Homo sapiens: one gene and its partners. The protein of the gene in region 2 interacts with the protein of the main gene of each other region in a pairwise test. Each region holds a gene or a part of one and is shown on either strand. Other genes may lie near its edges.

What was found.
Region 1: the proteins of KIFAP3 (region 2) and NAA11 interact in binary tests that used the Homo sapiens proteins (3 or more experiments, as listed by UniProt).
Region 3: the proteins of KIFAP3 (region 2) and MAP3K10 interact in a two-hybrid assay, tested with the Homo sapiens proteins (one study listed by BioGRID).

Annotation. Positions count from the first base shown.
Region 1 is NC_000004.12:79,323,145-79,330,501, reverse strand, and holds the start of NAA11 (N-alpha-acetyltransferase 11), read left to right. Parts: upstream 1-4,440; 5' UTR 4,441-4,624; coding exon 4,625-5,314; 3' UTR 5,315-5,326; intron 5,327-7,357.
Region 2 is NC_000001.11:169,980,665-169,987,777, forward strand, and holds part of KIFAP3 (kinesin-associated protein 3), read right to left. Parts: intron 4,027-7,113; coding exon 3,918-4,026; intron 2,719-3,917; coding exon 2,606-2,718; intron 2,204-2,605; coding exon 2,038-2,203; intron 1,434-2,037; coding exon 1,308-1,433; intron 1-1,307. UniProt on the Homo sapiens protein: Involved in tethering the chromosomes to the spindle pole and in chromosome movement. Binds to the tail domain of the KIF3A/KIF3B heterodimer to form a heterotrimeric KIF3 complex and may regulate the membrane binding of this complex.
Region 3 is NC_000019.10:40,194,405-40,201,517, reverse strand, and holds part of MAP3K10 (mitogen-activated protein kinase kinase kinase 10), read right to left. Parts: intron 3,144-7,113; coding exon 2,963-3,143; intron 1-2,962. UniProt on the Homo sapiens protein: Activates the JUN N-terminal pathway.

The DNA of each region.
Region 1 (7,357 bases), on a different chromosome or scaffold from region 2:
TCCGTTTGCCATTGGCTTATACTAAACTCAGCCTCTTTTCTTCTGTTTCAATGGAAGGGAAGTTCCCTATCATCACTGTCCACTATTCAAACCCAATATTAACTTCTAAACTTTTTTTTCAAAATTATCATCTCATATTTATATAGACATGCCCTGACAGTGGCATCATGAGAAAAAAAAGTTGTTTTGGAATATGCAGTAACACGAGAATGTAGAAAATATTTTGTTATCTATATGACTGAATTTATAATCTCTGATATTGTTTATGATTATAGACAATGGAGAAAACAATGAGAATTTATCCTCTCAGTAGGTATTAAAACTGTCTGTTTGTCCTTTTATTGATAATCTTTTTATATGTTATATAATTCCTTTATAATACAGCTGTTATAAATGGTGTTGCTCTCCAAACATCTTCAGCAAGAAAATGTTTGACTCTCACTGGAGCCAAAGTAATGGCCATTTTCCCTTTCTGGGTTCAACCAGTTGCCTCTGAAAACTCTCACTCTCTCTTTTTTTTTTTTTTTTTTTTTTGAGACAGTCTTTCTCTGTTGCTCAGACTGGAGTGCAGTGGTGCAATCACGGCTCACTGCAGTCTCCACCTGCTGGGCTCAAGTGATCCTCCCACATCAGCCTCCTGAGTAGCTGAGATCACAGGTGTGCACCACTATGCTTGGCTAATTTTTTTTTTTTAACATTTGCAGGGACATGGCCCTGACACGTTGCCCATGTTGGTCACAAATTCCTGAGCTCAAGCGATCTTCCTGCCTTGGCCTCTCAAAGTGCTGGGAATGCAGGTGTGAACCACTGTACCGAGCCTGAAAACTATTTCTGTGTTTGACTTTCTTTAAGATTAGACCTCAGATTCAGGATTAAACAGAATCAAGCCAACAAACAAACAAAGCCTTACTGATTAATAGGGTGCCTTTTCTTTCCAAACTTCTTTGAACCCACAAATACTCATCTTGCTTTAATGGCTCATGGAATAAGAAAGGCAGACAAAGGAGATGACAGTAAAAATAACAGATAGTTGATATGCTTCTAATTCTTCCAAATTGGTCTATTTTGTTATGTTTTCCCCATTTGTCAGGCCTACATTTTAGGAAGTCCAGTAAAGACACAAAGGATGGCTAACCCATCATTCCTAGGGTCATTTATGAGTATTAGGTTTGTTTATTCACACATATGAAGAAAAGTTGTTCAAATGAAAGTGTTTAGGAAATGTTATATATTTTTTTCAGGTACATAATATATTCTTACAGTAAACCTGATAAAATTACTCAGGGTGAGGGGGGCAATAAAAAGCTATTTAAAAACTCTTTATAATATTTGGAATAAACTTGTTTTTTACTAGTAAGAAGAAAATTAGTTTGCAAGTCATATTGTAAAGGAAGTGTATATAGAAATTATTTATTCATCCATAGCACCACAGTGGTATGTAGAATTCATACAAAAGACAGATAAGATGTAGAAACATAAGGTTAAAAAATAACTTGACTAAGATTTGTGCAGAACCCAGGCTCAAATAATCATATGTCTTGCCCTTAGATCCTATAGGCATGAGATATAAAGCCAGTTAGGAAGATGGGAGCTTTTTCCACATGAAATATTATAGATATGACATAATACCTGACTAGAACTCCAGGAGCTCTCATTTACAAAACATTTATGTATTAGATGACTTTTTGCTAAATTTTTGCAAAATATTAATGAAGATTGCCAATGCCCTTTACTTATGATAAAAACATACCACATACAAAACTTGACAAGACATGCTAGATCGATAGTCCAGAAATTAGAGGCACATTGTAATTCATGAGAGAACATTTATACTTGACCTCAGTAGGAGGGGCCAAATTAAGTACTACTTACTACCAACACCACCTTAAGGGTCAGAGTTTTAGTTTTGGATCCATGCTTTCCACTGCAGCTGAAATGAATATGCAAATGCTGAGGATATATGATAGCAACTTCTCTGTCAAAAAAGAAGACAGCCTATCAGAATATAACCAGTTTTTGCATTTTTTGTCTTAGCTACTGTGGTCATTGCAACTGGTAGACCATTCTTCCATGACAGTGGAGTTGTCATCATATTCCTTCTACGATTTTATATGAATAAAGATCACATTATTGTATATTAAAAACCATGCTTATTACTGTTGGTTTTGGTACCATGCCTACTCTGGAATAAGTCAAGTATACTGCCCAACTCTTGAGCATTAAGTCAGCACTATTCTATGTTGAAGGATATAGTATCTGTAATGAACCTGGCTGCATTTAAATTAACCCTGTCAAAGAATACAGTGCACTCAAGTTTCAATAGTCTATGCTTTTTAAAAGAAGAACCCACTACAGAAGAATCAACAAAATGACTCTTCTGGATCATGCTTTTAGAGCTACATCACTACAAATTATAGATCCCCATCCATGGTGTCAGGCACAACATGAAAGAAATTTCTGAACGGAAATAATACTGGTGAATAACTTTTCCAATGTATACAGCCTATCAAAAAATCAGGGAGCTAAAATGCTTACGTTAAATCTTAAAAATATATTAATAGATACTGCCAATTGTCAAAATACAACAAAAATAGTGGCTATTCAAGCTATGTTTCACAGATCACATGGCTCTAGGTTACTCTAGCTATTAAAGGAGTGCGTACCCTCATTGGAAAGAAAGCTGCACACATATTCTAGATGAGTTAAGAGGGTATCCATGACCTGGCTAATTACAACATAATTCATTTTGGTACTTGAGTTCTGAGGTCTGCTAGGAAACTGGGAAGAAAGACTGTACGAGACACACAGATAATTCCATTTGTGCAAGTAGTGCTAATAAAATGTGACTTCCTTGCACTATTAAATACCCCAAATCTTGCTTTATCGAGATGGCATATGATTATTTACTTATTCTTCTTCTTGTTCTGTCACCCAGGCTGGGGTGCAGTCATGCAATCATAGTTCACTACAGCCTTAAACTCCTGGCCTCAAGTGATCCTCCTGCCTCAGCCTCCCAAGTAGCTGAGACTACAGGCATGAATAACCACACCCAGCTAAGATGACATTAAAATTTTTAAATGCATCTACAAATAAAACTTAGGATTTATGACAAAGGTAACAATGCAGTAATATGAAGAAAGGATAATAATCTTTTTTCACAAAATGGTGTAAATGGTGCTATATGAATTGTACATCCACACAGGAAAAGAATATTGGGTCCACTGATACCTTACAGCATACACAAAACTAAATTTCAGTCAATTGCAGATCTAAATATAAAATGTAAAACTAACAATCTTAGAAGAAAATATAAAAGAATGCCTTCAGTCACCATGGAGTATGCAACGATTTATTAAACAGAACACAAAAAGCATTAACCACCAAATTTTAAAACTGGAAAAATTGAACTATATTAAAATTCATGCTTGGTGTCAAAAATCACCATTAAGAAAGGGAAATATCAATCAATAGACAAGAATGATATTCATTACAAATATATCTGACAAAGGACTTATACCCAGAATATATTTTTGATAAAACTCAAAAATTAATGTGAAAAAGACACACAAGTAGAAAAATGAGCAAAAAAATCTGAGCAGCCATTTACAAAAGAGAACACAGTATGGCTAATAAGCATATAAAGTGCTCAACTTTACTACTCATCAGTGCAATGCAAATACAACCACAGTGTAATACTTCTACCCCTACAAAAGAATGGCTAAAATAAAAACAATGGGGAAATAGCAAATGCTGTTGAGAAGGTGGAGCAACCACTCTGAAAAAGTGGCAGTATTTATAAAAGTTGAACATCATTATATTCAATGACCCAATAATTCTAATCCTAGATAAATATGCATTTGTTCCAACTAAAGACAAGTCTAGAATGTTCAGCTACCCTAGGGGTACTATTCCCAAACTGAAAATGACAAAATGGCCAGTAACAGTAGAATTGATAAAAAAAATTGTGACATATTTAGGCAATAGAATATCAAACAAGGAAGAATATAAAGAACCCTCAGCTATACACGAGGTGGCTGAAACTTACAAAGAGTGACTGAAAAAACCTGACACAAAAATAATGCATGCACTATGATTCCATTTATATAAAGTCTGTCGGAAGTCTAGGTAATCGTTATTCTTGGGATGTTGGAAGCAGGTACTGGAAGGGGACAGGAGGGGGGGTTCTGGGATACAATGTTCTTTATTTTCTCTAAGTTCCTGTTATATGGGTTTCTCCAGTTTGTGAAAATTTATTCAGATGTACCCAAATCAAAAAGTTAAAACTGAAACAAAAATAATAATTGCAATGGATCGCGTTATTTAAAACAAAGGCGACCACAATGAACTCCTCTCTCCCCACCCCCTAACCCCTGCGCACGCACACGCACAATGAAGCGAAACCTCATTGGCTGGGATCAGTGACGCACTTCTGAAAGCCGCAGTTTGGCACCATCTTTTCCATCTCCTGCTCCTTCCGCCTTCCCGCCATCCGCCCTCCACACGATTCAGCCCGGTGGTGTTAGCCCCCTGGACTCGATTCCTGAGGCAAACAGTGCCCCTTAAGGTCGGCGACAGCCTCTTCTGGGTTCACTGCAGTCCAACCGGTTCCCTACCCTCTGCCATTATGAACATCCGCAACGCTCAGCCAGACGACCTGATGAATATGCAACACTGCAACCTCCTTTGCCTTCCTGAGAACTACCAGATGAAATACTATTTATATCATGGCCTTTCCTGGCCCCAGCTTTCTTACATCGCTGAGGATGAGGACGGGAAGATTGTGGGCTATGTTCTGGCCAAAATGGAGGAGGAACCAGATGATGTCCCGCATGGCCATATCACCTCACTGGCCGTGAAGCGTTCACACCGGCGCCTCGGCCTGGCCCAGAAGCTGATGGACCAGGCCTCCAGGGCCATGATAGAGAACTTTAACGCCAAATACGTGTCTCTGCACGTCAGGAAGAGTAACCGGCCAGCCTTGCACCTTTATTCTAACACCCTCAACTTTCAGATTAGTGAGGTGGAACCTAAATACTATGCAGATGGGGAAGATGCTTATGCTATGAAGCGGGATCTCTCGCAGATGGCAGATGAGCTGAGACGACAAATGGACCTGAAGAAGGGCGGGTATGTGGTCCTGGGCTCCAGGGAGAACCAGGAGACCCAGGGCAGCACACTTTCTGATTCTGAAGAGGCCTGTCAGCAAAAGAACCCGGCTACCGAAGAAAGTGGCAGTGACAGCAAAGAACCTAAGGAGTCTGTGGAGAGCACCAACGTCCAGGACAGCTCAGAAAGCTCGGATTCCACCTCCTAGAGCATGCTTAAGGTATTCTGTCTTCCCTGACCCAGTACCCCCTTCTCCTAAATCCCTGCATCCTGCCTTGGCCTGCCCAATTCCATCCTGTCTTACCCCATTCTGGCCCTGCGAGATTTTACGGTAAAAACCACCTGGTGACCTTAGGGAGAAGTTAGAGTGAGTTGAGGGAGACTCATTACACGCTATTGGAAGTTAAATAGGATACCAGCTCATGCTGAAAGTAGATTAATTTCAATGAAGAAACAAGCATTTATCCTGCTTTTTGGGCATGAGTTGTATTTCAGGGTAACCACGTAGTTGATGAAAGGCATTTTTTTCTTTATGGAATTCCAGTTAGTAATAATGATAGAAATATAAAATCATCATTTTCCAACTCTTGATGAAATAATGGACCCAGCCAAGAGTCATCAATGGCTAATAGCATTAGGTAAAAGTTGGAGCACTTTGTAATGATGGATCAGACTGACAACACTTGAAGTCAGTGTAGTCAGTCTTCACTAAACGTGGAGACAAATATGTGTCTCCTTATGCAACAGGAAGTGCACAGTACTACCTATGAAATATTCTTTCCAAAAGAAAATTATGAGATCTGACTACCATTTTACAGAAAATAGAGGGACTTGTTAAACTATACCATGATGCAAACAGCCAAATCCAGAATGAGAGGTTTTTACAAAACAAATGACCTGGTTTCTTCAACAAATAAATGGCACACACACAAAAAAAGATGAAGCATTTTCTGTTAAACTTTACAGATACATTAAACTCAACTGCTATGGACATTGTTTGGATACTGATTCAAACAAACCATGTATAAGACATTTTTGAGATAATCAGGCAAAATTTGAACGGGGACTATATTAAGGAATTACTAATAATTTTATTAGAGGAGCTAAATGGTATTGTATTATGTTTAGAAAGTCCTTATCTGTTAAAGATACATACAGAAATAATTATAGCTGAAATAATAGGATGCCTAGGATTTCCTTTAAAATAATCCAGCAAAAAAAGAAGAAAAAGATTGAAAGAGGGAAAATGAAATAAGAATGGCAATGATAATTGTTGGGTTGGGAAATGGGTACTTAGGGGGTTCCTTATGCCATTTACTCTTTCGAATGTGTGAAAATTAGCATGAAAAGTTAAAGAGCCAAAACAATTACTGTACTTTTTTTTTTTTTTTTTGAGACAGAGTCTCGTTCTGTCGCCCAGGCTGGAGTGCAGTGGCGCGATCTCGGCTCACTGCAACCTCCACGTCCTGGGTTCAAGCTATTCTCCTGCCTCAGCCTCCCAAGTAACTGGGACTACAGGCGCCCGCCACCTCGCCTGGCTAATTTTTGTATTTTTGTATCTTTTTTTCTTTTTTTGAGATGGAGTCTAGCTCTGTCGCCGAGGCTGGAGTGCCGTGGCACTGTCTTGGCTCACTGCAAGCTCCGCCTCCCGGGTTCACGCCATTCCGCTGCCTCAGCCTCCCGAGTAGCTGGGACTACAGGCGCCTGCCACCACGCCTGGCTAATTTTTTTGTATTTTTAGTAGAGACGGGGTTTCACTGTGTTAGCCAGGATGGTCTTGATCTCCTGACCTCGTGATGCGTCCGCCTCGGCCTCCCAAAGTGCTGGGGTTACAGGCATGAGCCACCGTGCCCGGCCTAATTTTTGTATTTTTAGTAGAGACAGAGTTTCAGCATATTGGCCAGGCTGGTCTCGAACTCCTGACCTTGTGATCTGCCTGCCTCAGCCCCCCAAAGTGCTGCGATTACAGGCGTGAGCCACCGCGCCCAGCTCTTGTACTTCTTAATACACACTTATGCTAATACTAAGAAACCACTGAAACTAAGTTTTAAAGGATTGGTATGTTAGAAACAACTTAATTGTAATAATATACCACAGTATTTCTTCCATCAAAGGACTTTGTATCGCCTTAGGAATTTCAAGGGTCGGTGAGCTACTGGCAGTTTACAGGCTTTAACATCTTAATCTAGTCACCTTACCCTTACATGTATGAAAGGCAGCAACTTCTCATGGCAAAGTCTAGTCATAAATA
Region 2 (7,113 bases):
GGACAATAAATTCGGATCTAGAAGGGAATATGATGTTTAGAATCAGCTTCCAAATGGACCTTCCAACTTAGAAATCAAGTTTTAAAAAATAAGATTTGCACAAGAGAAGAGATCCAATTCAAACCAACACAAATCTCAACAGAAAGAAGTGATATAGCCGGGCACAGTGGCTCACGCCTGTAATCTCAGCACTTTGGGAGGCCGAGGTGGGCGGATCACCTGAGGTCGGGAGTTCAAGACCAGCCTGACCAACATGGAGAAACCCCATTTCTACTAAAAATACAAAATTAGCTGGGTGTGGTGGCGCATGCCTGTAATCCCAGCTACTCAGGAGGCTGAGGCAGGAGAATCGCTTGAACCCGGGAGGCGGAGGTTGTGGTGAGCCGAGATCATGCCATTGCACTCCAGCCTGGGCAACAAGAGCAAAACTATGTCTCAAAAAGTCAAAACAAAAACAAACAAACAAACAAAAAGAAGTGATATAATACAGTGGTCCTCCCTTATCTGTGGTTTTTCTTTCCATGGTTTTAGTTAACTGCAGTCAACCATGGTCAAAAATATTAAATGAAAAATCCTAGAAATAATTCATAAGTTTTAAATTATGCACAATTCTGAATAGTGTGATGTAATTTCCCACTGTTCCACTCCATCCCATCCAAGACATGAATCATCCCTTTGTCCAGTGTATCCAGGATGTACATGCCACCTGCCCATTAGTCCCTTAGTAGCCATCTCAGTTATCAGGTCCACTAGCATAGTATTGCAATGCTTGTATTCAAGTAACCCTTATTTCATTTAATAATGGCTCCAAAGTATAAGAGTAGTGATGCTAAGCATACTGTTATAATTTTTCTGTTTTATTATTAATTATGGTTGTTAATCTCTTACTGTGCCTAATTTATAAATTAAACTTTATCATTGGTATGTTTAGAAAAAAAAAGTATATATAGGGTTTGATAGTATCTGTAGTTTCAGGCATCTGCTGGGGGTCTTGGAATGTATTCCCCTTGATTAAGTTGTGACTACTATATTGGTTGTTCAAGGTTGGTGAGGAGAGTACTTCTGTAAAATTGGTCCTGAACTGCTTTACAGCAACATTCTTAACTTTGAAAGCTAAAGATCTTTGATATTACTCTATCCAATCCCAGTTAGCAGTATATTTAATTCATTTTTCTTGATTATATAAGTTGCTATGAAACAATTAATGTAATGAGAAAAACAGATTACAGACTCTGCATTTTATATTTAAATATTTAAATCAATAAGCTGTTTAGACATTAACATAAAAATAAATTAAGGTTATTTACCATTTAGCAATTCAATGAGTGCAGGGATTATGCCAGATTTGGCTAGCAATGCAGCACAAGAGTCATCCATGGATACAGTTCCAATCATTATAACCACTTCTAAAACAAGATCATCTTCTGCAGCACCTAGTGAAGTCAAACCATAGAAAGTTTTCACTGAAATGTCCTGATCCAAATTCATTTAGAGTATCAAAATGTAAATACACAGAAAGGATACTGAAAGCTATTAAATCAAGTCATATGAATCCTTGATATGCTATAAATTTGTCCTTTTTCCAAATTTCCATGTTTGCTGATGACAGTTTGTGATAGTGGGGGCAGGGGGCAGTAGAAAAGTGGAAATGAGCCTTTGAGAGTACAACTGAATGACAACATAGACACAGAAAATAAAAGACTCATTTGAATGCCTCAAAGACCTTTGTGCGTGTTTATGTATATGCAGAGGGATGGTATTTGGTAATTTTAAAGAGACAGAATAAAAAAATACCAAAAGACCACAAGAAAGGTAGAATAGGAAATAGAAACTAACATAAGAAAACACACTTTTAGGAAAAAGAGAACATATATGTAAGAGGTGATCCAGTGACTACCTTTCTGGGAGAAGAGAGCTGTGAGAAGAAATGGCTTTTCCTAACATAATAATAGTCACACAATACTGCTCTAGCAGCCTTATCCATAACAGAAAGAAATAACTTAGTGATTATACAAAAGTGAAATACTTAGCACAAACCTGGTTTTAGTTTATCCTTGAGGTATGGAACCAACTTATATTCTTTAAGAACCAATTCCCAGTCTAAGTCTGGAATGGTCAAGTTTGCAAGAGTTCCCAAACATTCAATCACAAACTCCTCTTCTTCATCATTAGAGATCTGGGCTGCAAGGTCCCCAACATAATCCTGAATAAAACATAATTTTAATATAAATTTAAATTATTTTTTATTTAATCTAATAACCCACAGGAATCTAACAATTTAACTCATTGAAAGAAAAAGTAAATATCAAATGTGATTTTCTTGTTTTAATAATCTTGAGCTAAATTGCTAAAGAAGCCTATGGTGAACTGGTTTAAGGCAAGAAGACTGTAGTGGGGTGGAGGGATTAGGGGTAAGGGTCACAAAACAAAAACAACATTGAAACATAGGTTGAGATTTCTAGGTGCTAAACTAACAAAGTTGATAACATAAGAGCAATTTGGATTATAAATTAATATTTGACGAGACCTCAGTAAGAGCTGTATTTCCAAATGTAGCAATTTCAATTCCCAGTCTATTTGAATAGAAAGCCAAAATGATACTTACAATAAACAGATTTTTAGTTGGTCCATCATGCTGAGAAATGTTTCTAATCATTTTCATCAGCAATGGATCCTTAAACTTCAGAGCCCTCTTCATGAGCATCTTCAGCCCATTTCCTGAAACAGAAAAGTCCCCCAATAAAATTAAGGTTAGCTTAAGTTTAATAATTTTTTGTTTAGTTCTCAAAAAAGCCACAACAATTTACATCTAGTAAAATGCATAACTCTTAAGGGTACAATTTGATTAATTTAGATGCAACCCATACCATATATCAACATACAGAGTATTTTCATTCCCTCCAGAAAGTTCACTTGTGCCCCTTCCCAGTCAATCCTGTTTCCCAGATATAATCACTTTTCCTCTTCCCTGTCTCATTTTTAAACATATATAAATTTTGCCTGATATAGAACTTCATATAAATAGAATCATACCATATGTGCTCTTTTGTGCCTACAATATCTACTACAAATGTTAAAAACAAAAATACTTTTGACTCAGAAAAATTGTACTTCTGGGAATTTATCCTAACAATATAAAAATGAAAATGTGTAAAGATTCAGAGAATGGGTAATTACTATAGCACTGTTTGTAACGGAAAATAAGTGGCAATGAACTATATCCATAATAGTGAAGTAAACTATGGCAAAATTCTTTAATAGACAATTTTGCAGTTATTAACAAATATGCTTTATAAAAACACTTAATCACATAAAATATTATTTCAAGATATTACTAATTTTAAAAGAATGTATCATGATATATAGACAATCACATTTTTATTTAAAAATATGCAGAAGTATTACACTAAAATCTTACCTATGATTATCTGTGGATGGTAGGAAATAAAGATTTAAATCTTTTCCTTTTTGCTCATTTGTGCTTTTTATAACAAACACATACTACTTTTCAAATAAGGCAAAAACTATCGGGCAGACTCTGAAACATCATAATGTATGACAGGCTATTCTACAAAGATATTACAGAAATAATCTAATACATTTGTATTTTATTACCTTATATTGTAATAGACTGCTTTGCAAAGAAAAAGTTTCATTTTATCTAGAAAATGTTTTAAAAATCAAATTTCAATTAAGGCTAACTCACCATGGTTTGTAAAATGTTATCAGAAGGTAAGTGTCTGCATTTATGACGTAAGAATATTCTATCTGACCTTTAAGGATTATAGCTATAATGAAGAAATTATTTGAAAACAGGACTTACATAATCATTATAATTCTTAATTCCTTATATCTATTTTCCATCATATACCAAATACCATATGCTAAAAAAGTTACCTACACTCAAAGGCACTGACCTTCACAGATAAGCTGTACATTTCTTTTGTTAGCAGCAAGATTAATGCAGAAAGAAATGAGTTCCAAGTCAATTCGTTCATCTGAACATTCAAACAGCATCTTCATTAACTAGCAAGAAGCACAGGGCACATTTTACTCAAGAAACAAAGACAAAAAACCAAACACAGAAGCAATATTTTTATCATAATGTGTTATCTTAGATTGTACATTGGGCATAATATAATTATTTACATTTCAACACATAAAACTGGCAGGCGTTCACTGTTCAACAACTGGATGAATAAACAGTTAATGAACTCTTAGATGCTCAGCATTAAATATAAACTTCTAAGTACAGTGGAGAATATAAGAGAAATATTAGATAAAACATCTGTCCTTAAATAATTAAACATATTGTTTGGAAGCAGAGCATTCCAAGCAAAGAAAATAGCTTATGCAAAGGTCACAATGCAGGAAAAAACAGTACTCTTTGAAGAATTAAAAGCAAGCAAGCATTGTTGGTGAAAGGGAAACAACAGTTTTAAGAGATAAGAAGGTAAAAACCAGATCATGCAGGGTCTTGAAGTACATGTTAAAGATTTTGGCCTTCGTGCTAAGAAGGATAATGGGAAGCTGCTAAAAGCTTCTAAATAGGAAAGTGTCAGGATAAAATTTGTGTCTCAAAAAGATTTACCCAGTGTAGAAAATAGAATAAAATTGCAAGAAAATATGGGGAACCAGGTAGGATGCTAGAGGAAAAGTCCAAGTGAGAAGATGGGTGTCTGAACTAGGTAGAGATAAAAGGATTGATTAGACATATATTTAGAAAACAGAACCAAAATGGAATGTAGTAACTGACTAGATGTTATGGTTAAAGGAGTGGAGGAGTCAAAGATGACTTCTGGATTTATGCACTGAGAAATGACATACATGGTGCTGCCAACATCTACCGAAAAGGAGAAACTAGGGTAGAAAAAAACTTTAAAGGAAAGATAGTAATTTTGGTTTTAGATATGTTGAGTTTAAGCTGCTTATGTGATAGTCTAGTGCAGGTATTCAGTAGGAAGTCATAAACACAGGCCTGAGTTTAGAAGAAATGTCTGGACTAGAGGTATAATTTTAGGAACTGGCATATATGGTTGAAAACTGAAGCTGCAGGCTAAATCCAATCACTTGGGCATGGGTATAAAATGAGAAAAAAACATTTTTAGTGATAAGAGAAAAAGAAAGAGGGTCTGAAAAACAACAGACAAAAAGGTAAGAAGGAAAAGGTAGGCTACCTATGCCATTTAGCAGTAATCTAGATTTGTCATGGTGAGAAACAGCTGCTATAATAAAGGACAAATGAACAAATTTTATGCTATGTTTTGGAGAAGCTAGTCTTCTATTATTGTCAAATCAGCAAATTAACTTAGTGTATAGTACATAAAGAGAGTTTTTTCTCAGCCCAAATTGTTAACAACAAATAGAAGTTATTCCTAAAATTTATAATATAAAAACTTACTATGTTTTATCTCAGGGCAATACCTTTTTAGAACATGTTGGATTCATGCCTTCATGAATCCAACACAGCGAATAATAAATATTTATTTATTTTAGACCTCTTTCTGTTAAATCTTGTTTTGATTACTGTTAGTTCAAGATGACTTCTGCATTTCAAAAATGATATGTGGTCAATATACAAAAATCAATCACATTTCTATGTGTTAGCAATGAACAGCTGAAAACCAAAATTAAATTTGGTTAAATTAAATTAAATAAAAAACACAATACCACTCAAATTGTTAGGTATAATTCTAAGCAAATACACTGATCTGTATGCTGAAAATTACAAAACACTGTAGCAGGTGAACGGCTGGCATGTATCATATGCTCCCCTTGAGGGCAGATCTTTAACCACAAATATTACCACTGATAGTATCTCTGGGTAAGAATCATTAATACTTAATAATGCCACAGAATAAAAAAAGATTCAAGGGCAAAAGTAAAATAATCTTAATTTACTGGATATATATTTAACAGATTTCACTACCTATCTGCCCAATAAAAATTAAATTACAAATAAAATTGCCAATAAAAATTAAATTACAAATTACCAAAAATGTAGGTGACAATCCTCTAATTAATTGCTATGTTTTCTAAACTGTAATTAAAAACCTACCATAGATTTTTTTCAATCTGAGAATCGGTTACATTGAAGCAATGTTTCAAGCAAAGTATTTATTGCTAACAAAAAGTATTTACTTCAAATCAACCTTTGTAGTATGAAAATTAGCCTTAAACACAGGGCTACAGGTCATTATTTTAGAAGGTAAATTTTCTCTAAAGTAATTTCCATATTAAATTCTACCTAGAAATAAACAATCAGAAACTAGATTTTTAGAAAATAATGCATGGCTCGAAAACTTACTCAACTCCCATTCCCCATATCGAGCTAAATTAGGACTAAATATAAATGGAATGCATAATGATATAGAATTAGTTTTTCATAATAAGAGAGATAAACATTTCAATTTTAATTAAAGCTTTCAAATTTAAAAAAGCAATGTTTAGTTCAAACTCCACATGAAAGAGTATGTCTTTAATTTGATTGCTATGATGGCACTTCAAAAGTAAGTGTAATTGCTGACAACTAGAAAATATTAAAACTAGATTTGTTCTGTTTTAACTATGTCCATTGTCATCTTTTACTAATTTACCAGAAAAGCACTAAAAGGGCTTCAGTCTGTGCGATGAAGAGGCAATAGTGTTCAATCAGACAAGTCCCATATTGAGTATCAGATACCAAAGACCCATGACTGAAATCACTGTGTCTAGACTCTCTGGCACCTGACTTCACTTATTTACCACTGACCAGAGGCCAACCCCCACAGCTCTCTGTATTCACATATAACTCTACCACCCCCATCCCCTACCCAAACATCTTTGAATGATTATACCAGAACTTTGCATGCCTCCGGAATCTCTTCTGACTGGCTACTCCCTAACTCTCCTGTTTGAAGTGATGCTCTGGTTTCTGAACTTCAGCAGATAATGGCAGGCAAGAGCAAAGGGGGCTGTCAGAAAGGACGTTTACCAGCATTCAGCTAAAAAGAAGCATGTAGATCAAAGGGGGCCATATAGGACAACTGTGGTGGAAAACATGTGGATCACTATGAAGATTCTTGCACACTGTTCTAGGATAAAATATTAAATAACACCATGACATCACTACCT
Region 3 (7,113 bases), on a different chromosome or scaffold from region 2:
CTGTTAAAAAAAAAAAAAAAAAAAAGGCTGGGTGCGGTGGCTGACGCCTGTAATCCCAGCACTTTAGGAGGCCCAGGTGGGCAGATCATGAGGTCAAGAGATCAAGGCTGTCCTGGCCAATATGGTGAAACCCCGTCTCTACTGAAAAATTAAAAAAAATAAATAAATAATACAAAAATTAGCTGGGCCTGGTGGCATGTGCCTGTAGTCCCAGCTACTTGGGAGGCTGAGGCAGGATAATTGCTTGAACCCAGGAGGCAGAGGTTTCAGTGAGCCAAGATCGCGCCGCTGTACTCCGGCCTGGGCGACAGAGCAAGACTCCAGCTCAAAAAAAAAAAAAAAACAAAAAACGCTGGAGCTCAAGCAGTCATTTTGGATCATGAAGTAAACTTCAGAATGGAGACCATACAAGGTGGGGGAGAAACAGTGGTTTATAACTGGAGGGTAGCATGATCCACCCCTCTCTCCCATGTCCTTGGAAACCTATGGGGTTACTGTGATTGTAATAATGACTGAGAATGTTACTGAAGTTTATGGCGGGGAGGTGTGGATATCCTGCATCCTGCTAAGTACAGGACAGGACCACATCAGAAAGAATTAGCCTGCCCGGCCGGGTGCAGTGACTCATGCCTGTAATCCCAGCACTCTAGGAGGCTGAGGCGGGCGGATCACCTGAGGTCAGGACTTCAAGACCAGCCTAGCCAACATGGTGAAACCCTGTCTCCACTAAAAATATAAAAATTAGCCAGTGCATGCCTATAATCTCAGCTACTCGGGAGGCTGAGGCACAAGAATCACTTGAATCTGGGAGGAGGAGGGTGCAGTGAGCTGAGATTGTGCCATTGCACTCCAGCCTGGGCGGCAGAGTGAGACTCTGTCCCAAAAAAAAAAAAAAAAAAAAAAAAGGTAGCACAAATGAACGCCTGATGTACAGCCAGTTGGAAATTCTCCCAAAGGGCTGCTCTGCTCTAGGCTGAGCTGGAGACTTCCTGTCTGATCTGTCTCAGTCCCATACCCATTAATTTGCTGCTTGGACAATCTGGAGCCTCAGCTGGGAATTGACGGGAACAGTAAATGGGGAGACCCAGGTTTGGCTCCAACCAAGCAGAAGGTCCTGGGTTGAAAGTCTCCATGGCCACCATCAACTCTCACTGGTGACAGCAACAGACCCATCATTGGCTGTCTCTACCTAACAGTCAAAGGAGCTTTTATTTTTAAGTATTTTTTTTCAGATGGAGTCTTGCTCTGTCACCCAGGCTGGAGTGCAACGGCGCCATCTCAACCTCTGCCTCCTGCAGTCAAGCAATTCCCCTGCCTCAGCCTCCTGAGTAGCTAGGACTACAGGCACCCACCACCATGCCTGGCTAATTTTTGTATTTTTAGTAGAGATGGGGTTTCACCATGTTGGCCAGGCTAGTCCTGAATGAACTCCTGGCCTCAAGTGAACCACCCACCTCGGCCTCCCAAAGTGCCAGGATTACAGGCGTGAGCCACCGCGCCTGGCCGAATTTTTGTATTTTTAGTAGAGGTGGGATTTCACCATGTTGGCCAGGCTGGTCTCAAACTCCTGGTGTCAAGGGATTCACCCACCTGGGCCTCCCAAAGTGCTGGGATTACAGGCGTGAGCCACCGCACCCGGCCTCCAAAGGAGTTTTTATTTACTTCCTTTTATAAAAATTAATTTAAAAATTTCTTTTTCATATACATGGGGTCTCACTACATTGACCAGGCTGGTCTCAAATTCCTGGCCTCAAGTGATCCTCCCACCTTGGCCTCCCAAAGTACTGGGATTATAGGTGTGAGCTACCACTCTATTCAGACATGGCTCCTCATGGCTTCCTACTTCATTAGAATAAAACCTGAAGGCCACTCCCTCACCCACAGGGCCTTCCAGCTCCCTCTCCTACATAATTTCCTACCTCTCTCTTCCTTGCCTGCACAGTGGCAGCCACATGGGCCTCTTTGCTGTTTCTGGGACACACCATGCTCACCTCAGCACCTCCTTCTTCCTCCAAACTTTTCGTGACTGGTTCCTTTTTGCCACTTGGAACTCAGATGAAGTATCATTTCTCAGATTGCTCAGAGAAGCGTTCCCAAAAGTAGTCTTCCAGCCCTTAAAGTGCCTTCCTCTCAGCCTCCTCGCACTTTGTACTAACACTTTTTTCTGGTGTACTTGTCTTTAAAAATTATAATTTTCTTAAAAAACAGCTTTATAAAAAAGAGCTTCTTGTATGTTGACTGACTTACTATTCCTGAGGGCAGGGATTGCATGTATTTTTCTTCTCTGCTATATCCCTAGAACCCGGTGCAGTTAGATGAAGGAATGAATGAGTGAATTAATCATTTTCCTGTCTGACAGATGGGACAGTGCATGGGCTAGTGTCTGAGGGGGCTTTCAGTGCTAGCATCCATGTGCTGTCTCTATGCTTTTTTAAATTTTTTCTTTTTTTGGAGACAGAGTCTCGCTCTGTCACCCAGGCTGGAGTGCAGTGGCCAATCCCAGCCCACTGCAATCTCTGCCTCCCGGCCTCAAGTGATTCTCCTGCCTCAGTCTCCCGAGTAGCTGGGACAACAGGCATCTGCCACCACGCCCAGGTAATTTTAGTATTTTTAGTAGAGATGGGGTTTCACCATGTTGGTCAGGCTGGTCTCAAACTCCTGACCTCAAGTGATCCGCCCACCTCGGCCTCCCAAAGTGCTGGGATTACAGGTGTGCGCCCCCGCGCCCGGCCTTGTCTCTAGATCCTATGAGCTTTTTATTCTAATCCAGTGTGCCCCCTAGTTGCCATTTGTGCTAGCTGAACAGGTAACTGGCACTTGTCTGGTGGCCTGACCTTGCCAGCAGGTCCCTTTGTCAGACTGAGATCCTGGCTTCAGCAGGAGACCCTCCCTCCCACTCTGCCCTCACCCCTTCCTCCCTCCCTTACTCCCCAGAGGCCATCCCGGCCGCGCCTTTCAGCACCTCCAGACATCACTGCTTTTGGAGAAGAGGGAGAGACGGATAACCTCCGGCGCCATCCAGGCGTAGGTCCCCGCAGCGCTCATCTTGGTGGTCTTGTGCCACTCGCGGGCGAGGCCGAAGTCCGTGATCTTGAGCACCGTGTCTGCGAGGTTGTGGTTCTCGATGGCCTCCAGGATCAGGACTGTGGGGTGGGAAGAAAGGTGGGTCACCCCAGACCTGCCACGCCGCAGACCCAAGTGTTCTGGCCCGCTGCCTCAGCTAGAAACACGTCTTTCCTCTCACTGCCTCAGGCTGCCCCGCTCTGTGGCAGGTCCTTTCCTGGCCTGGAACATCCATGAGCCCCTCCGCCCAGGTCTAATCCCTGTCCCAGGCTCCCATGAGGGAGTAGGGAGCTCCTCCTGTGTCCTCTGCCCTCCTGATTCTGTCCTGGGCTTTGGGGAGCTCCATGAATGGTCAAGAACCAACAGCCAAGGCTGAAGCGGGTCACTTGAGCCCAGGAGTTCGAGACCAGCCTGTGCAACATGGCAAGACCTCATCTCTACAAAAACTTTTTAAAAATACCTGGGTGTGGTGGTGCATGCCTACAGTCCCAGCCACTTGGGAGGCTAAGTTGGGAGGATCACTTGAGGCTGGGAGGTTGAGGCTGCAGTGAGCCATGGTCTTGCCATTGCACTCCAGCCTGGGCAATAGAGTGAGACCTCGTCTCAAAAAAAAGAAACAACAGCCAAGGCCTTAGTCCTCCAGGCCTTGAGTTCCCAGCTACCCTGGAAGCAGGAAGTGCAAACCTGGGGCAGAAGGGAGGAACGTGGCTTCCCCCTCGTGTCTATCACCCCCGTGGCACACTGCAGTCAGGGTCCCAATTCTACCCCTTCCTGTGTCCACACTCTGCCATGAGACTTTGCCATTCTTTCTGCTAAAGAGGCAGAGTATGGCCAGGCACGGTGGCTCACACCTGTAATCCCAGCACTTTGGGAGGCTAAGGCAGGCGGATCACTTGAGGTCAGGAGTTCGAGACCAGCCTGGCCAACATGGTGAAACCTCATCTCTACTAAAAATACAAAAATTAGCCGAGCATCATGGTGCTCACCTGTAATCCCAGCTACTTGGAAGGCTGAGGCATGAGAATCACTTGAACCTGGGAGGTGGAGGTGGCAGTGAGCTGAGATTGCGCCATTGAACTCCAGCCTGGGTGACAGAGCGAGACTCTGTCTCCGAGAAAACAAAAACAAAAACAAAAACAAAGGCAGAGTGCACCCTGACTCTGGCTCAGCCGTATGACTTGCTTTGGCTAAGAATGACAGGGTGCCAATTCCAAGCCCAGGCCTTGCATGTCTGCTGGCCCTCTTGCACTTGTGTCATCACCATGACAACATGCCTCAGCTAGCCTGCTTGTCCAAGAAGATGAGAGCTACTTGGAGCAAAGCCTCTCCAGCTGAGCCCAGCCTCCATCAGTTTACCCTCCAGCTGGTCCGCAAATGCAGGAGCAGTAATACACAATGGCTGTTTTAAGATGCCGAGTTTTGGGGGTAGCTTATTACACAGCATGATCGTGACAAAATCTGACTGAAGTATTCCCTAAACATACTGGATGGTTCTAGCTTACTTTCTACCCGGGTTGTCACTAACAGCCATGAGGATCATGGCTAGTGTTTGTACTGTGCTAAGCTCTCTATAGGAATTGACTCATGAATGACCCCCACCCCGAGCCCTTTTTTATTTTTTTAAAGAGACAGGGTTGGCCAGGAGCAGTGGCTCATGCCTGTAATCCCAGCACTTTGGGAGGCCAAGGTAGGTGGATCACTTGAGGTCAGGAGACCGAGACCAGCCTGGCCAACATAGTGAAACCCTGTCTCTACTAAAAATACAAAAATTAGCTGGGTGTGGTGGCGGGTGCCTGGAGTCCCAGCTATTTGAGAGGCTTTGGTGAGAGGATCACTTGAACCCAGGAGGCAGAGGTTGCAGTGAGCCGAGATCGTGCCACTGCACTTCAACCTGGATGACAGAGCGAGACTCCATCTCAATGAAATAAATAAATAAATAAAGAGACAGGGTCTTTTTCTGTCACTCAGACTGGAGTGCAGTGGTGTGATTATGGCTTGCTGTAGCTTCAAACTTCTGGGCTTAAACAATCCTCCAGCCTTGGACTCCCAAATTGCTGGGACTACAAGAGTAAACCACTGCACCCAGCCACAACCCATTTTTCTTGACTAGCTAACAGAGGCTCAGAAGTCACTTGGCCAAGAGGTCACATGGTTAGAAAATGGCAGGACAAAGGCTTGAATTAGTTTTGTCATCAGAGCTCAATCTCTTAACTGCTGAGATATTTTACTACCTTCTATCACATAGAGGCTCCAAAGTATACAGTGTGCTGCCTGGGTTTGAGTCTCAGCCCTGCTTCTTCCTAGGTGCATAACCCTGTACAGTTTACTTTAATCTTCACACCGAGACTTCTCCTCTATGAAATGGGGCTCGTAACAGAATTTACCTTCTAGCGTTATAGTAAAAATTTATTGCCTGAAGCAATAGGGCCTTTAAAAGTGTTAGCTGTTATTATTAGTGTGTGATATTGCCATAATTGTTCCGAATTTCTCCACTTTTCTTTTTGCCATTCCTGGCTACTTCCCAGTCATAATAATAATAGTAAGGTAGTTCTACTATCATGCCCATTTGGCAGATGAAGGAACTGAAGGTGGCAGAGATTGGCAAATCACCCAGGGTCACACAATTGATAATCCTGCCCATCCTTTAAAGCCCAGCTTCAGATTGGACGCGGTGGCTCATGCCTGTAATCCTAGCACTTTGGGAGGCTAAGGCAGGCGGATCACCTGAGGTCAGGAGTTCAAGACCAGCCTGGCCAACATGGCAAGACCACCGTCTCTACTAGAAATACAAAAATTAGCCAGGCTTGGTGGCGCACGCCTGTAGCCCTGCCTACTTGGAAAGTTGAGGTGGAAGGATCACTTGAACCCGGGAGGCGGAAGGTTCAGTGAGCTGTGATCACACTACTGCACTCCAGCCTGGGTCACAGAGTGAGATGACTCTGTCTCAAAAAAAAAAAAAAAAAAAAAAAAAAAAAAAAAAAAAGGCCGGGCGGGCTTCAGTGTTACCTCCTCCTGGAAGCCCCCACTGTAAATTCCTAGTCTGTAACTCCACCTCTGCAGAAGTTTTCCCTTCTTAGGTCCCCACCTCTCCTGTTTGTATCGAAACCCTGTGACAGAGGGAACATCTCATGGTTTTATGCTTTATTTCTGTATTTCCCAGGCTGGGCCTAAGTCAGTCCCCCTTCAAAATCTTTATGTAATCATGTCACTCCCTGCTTCAAATCCTCTAATGGCTTCCACTACATCAAATAAAATACCCCAAGTCCTCACCATGGCCCCCAAGGTCCTATGTGATCTGGCTCCTGCCAGCCTTTCTGATCCTACTTCCTCCCATCTCTGCCTCAATGCCTGCTGTTCTGGTCTTGCTGTTCTCCAGTGAGACACACTCACTCCCACCTCAGGGCATGTGCCCCACTGTTCCCCTTCCCCAGATCTTTGTAAAGCTGGGTCCCCTTTGTTCAGGTCTCTGCTCAAATGTTGCCTTCCCTGACCACCCGATCTAAATAAAGAGAACCCTCTGCTCCAGCCTTTGCCTTAGTCCACTGAGAGCCCCTGATACTCTCTGAAATTTTGGTATCCATCTATCCATCATTTATTCCTGTTCACCGGAATATAAATTCCATAGCTGGGGGAGGGAGAAATCTTGCCTTGTTCACTTCTGTAATCCCAGAGCTGAGGCAGTGCCTAGTAAGAGTAGGCACTTAAGAATTACTGGTGGAATGAACCAATGAATGAATGATGGCAGATGAGGCGCTCCTTAGGGTAGGATGAGTGGGGAAGCAGTGCTGTGGAGGCGCTGTGTCCTCTGTTTCTGGCACAGAGCAGACCCATCACCCCGGGAGGAAGCCCTGGCCATAAGAGGCCCACTGACCCTTTGACCAGATAGCACTGGCTACAAAAAACCTGGGGGTGTGGGGCGTGCTGTCAATCAGCAGAGGTGAGGAAGGGCTGAGGAGTCCCAGCCTTCAACAGGAGCATGCTGGGTGGCCCTGCCTCCATTTACCCAACATTTCAGAGGTGCTGGGGCATAAGCATCAGTTCCCCAGACAC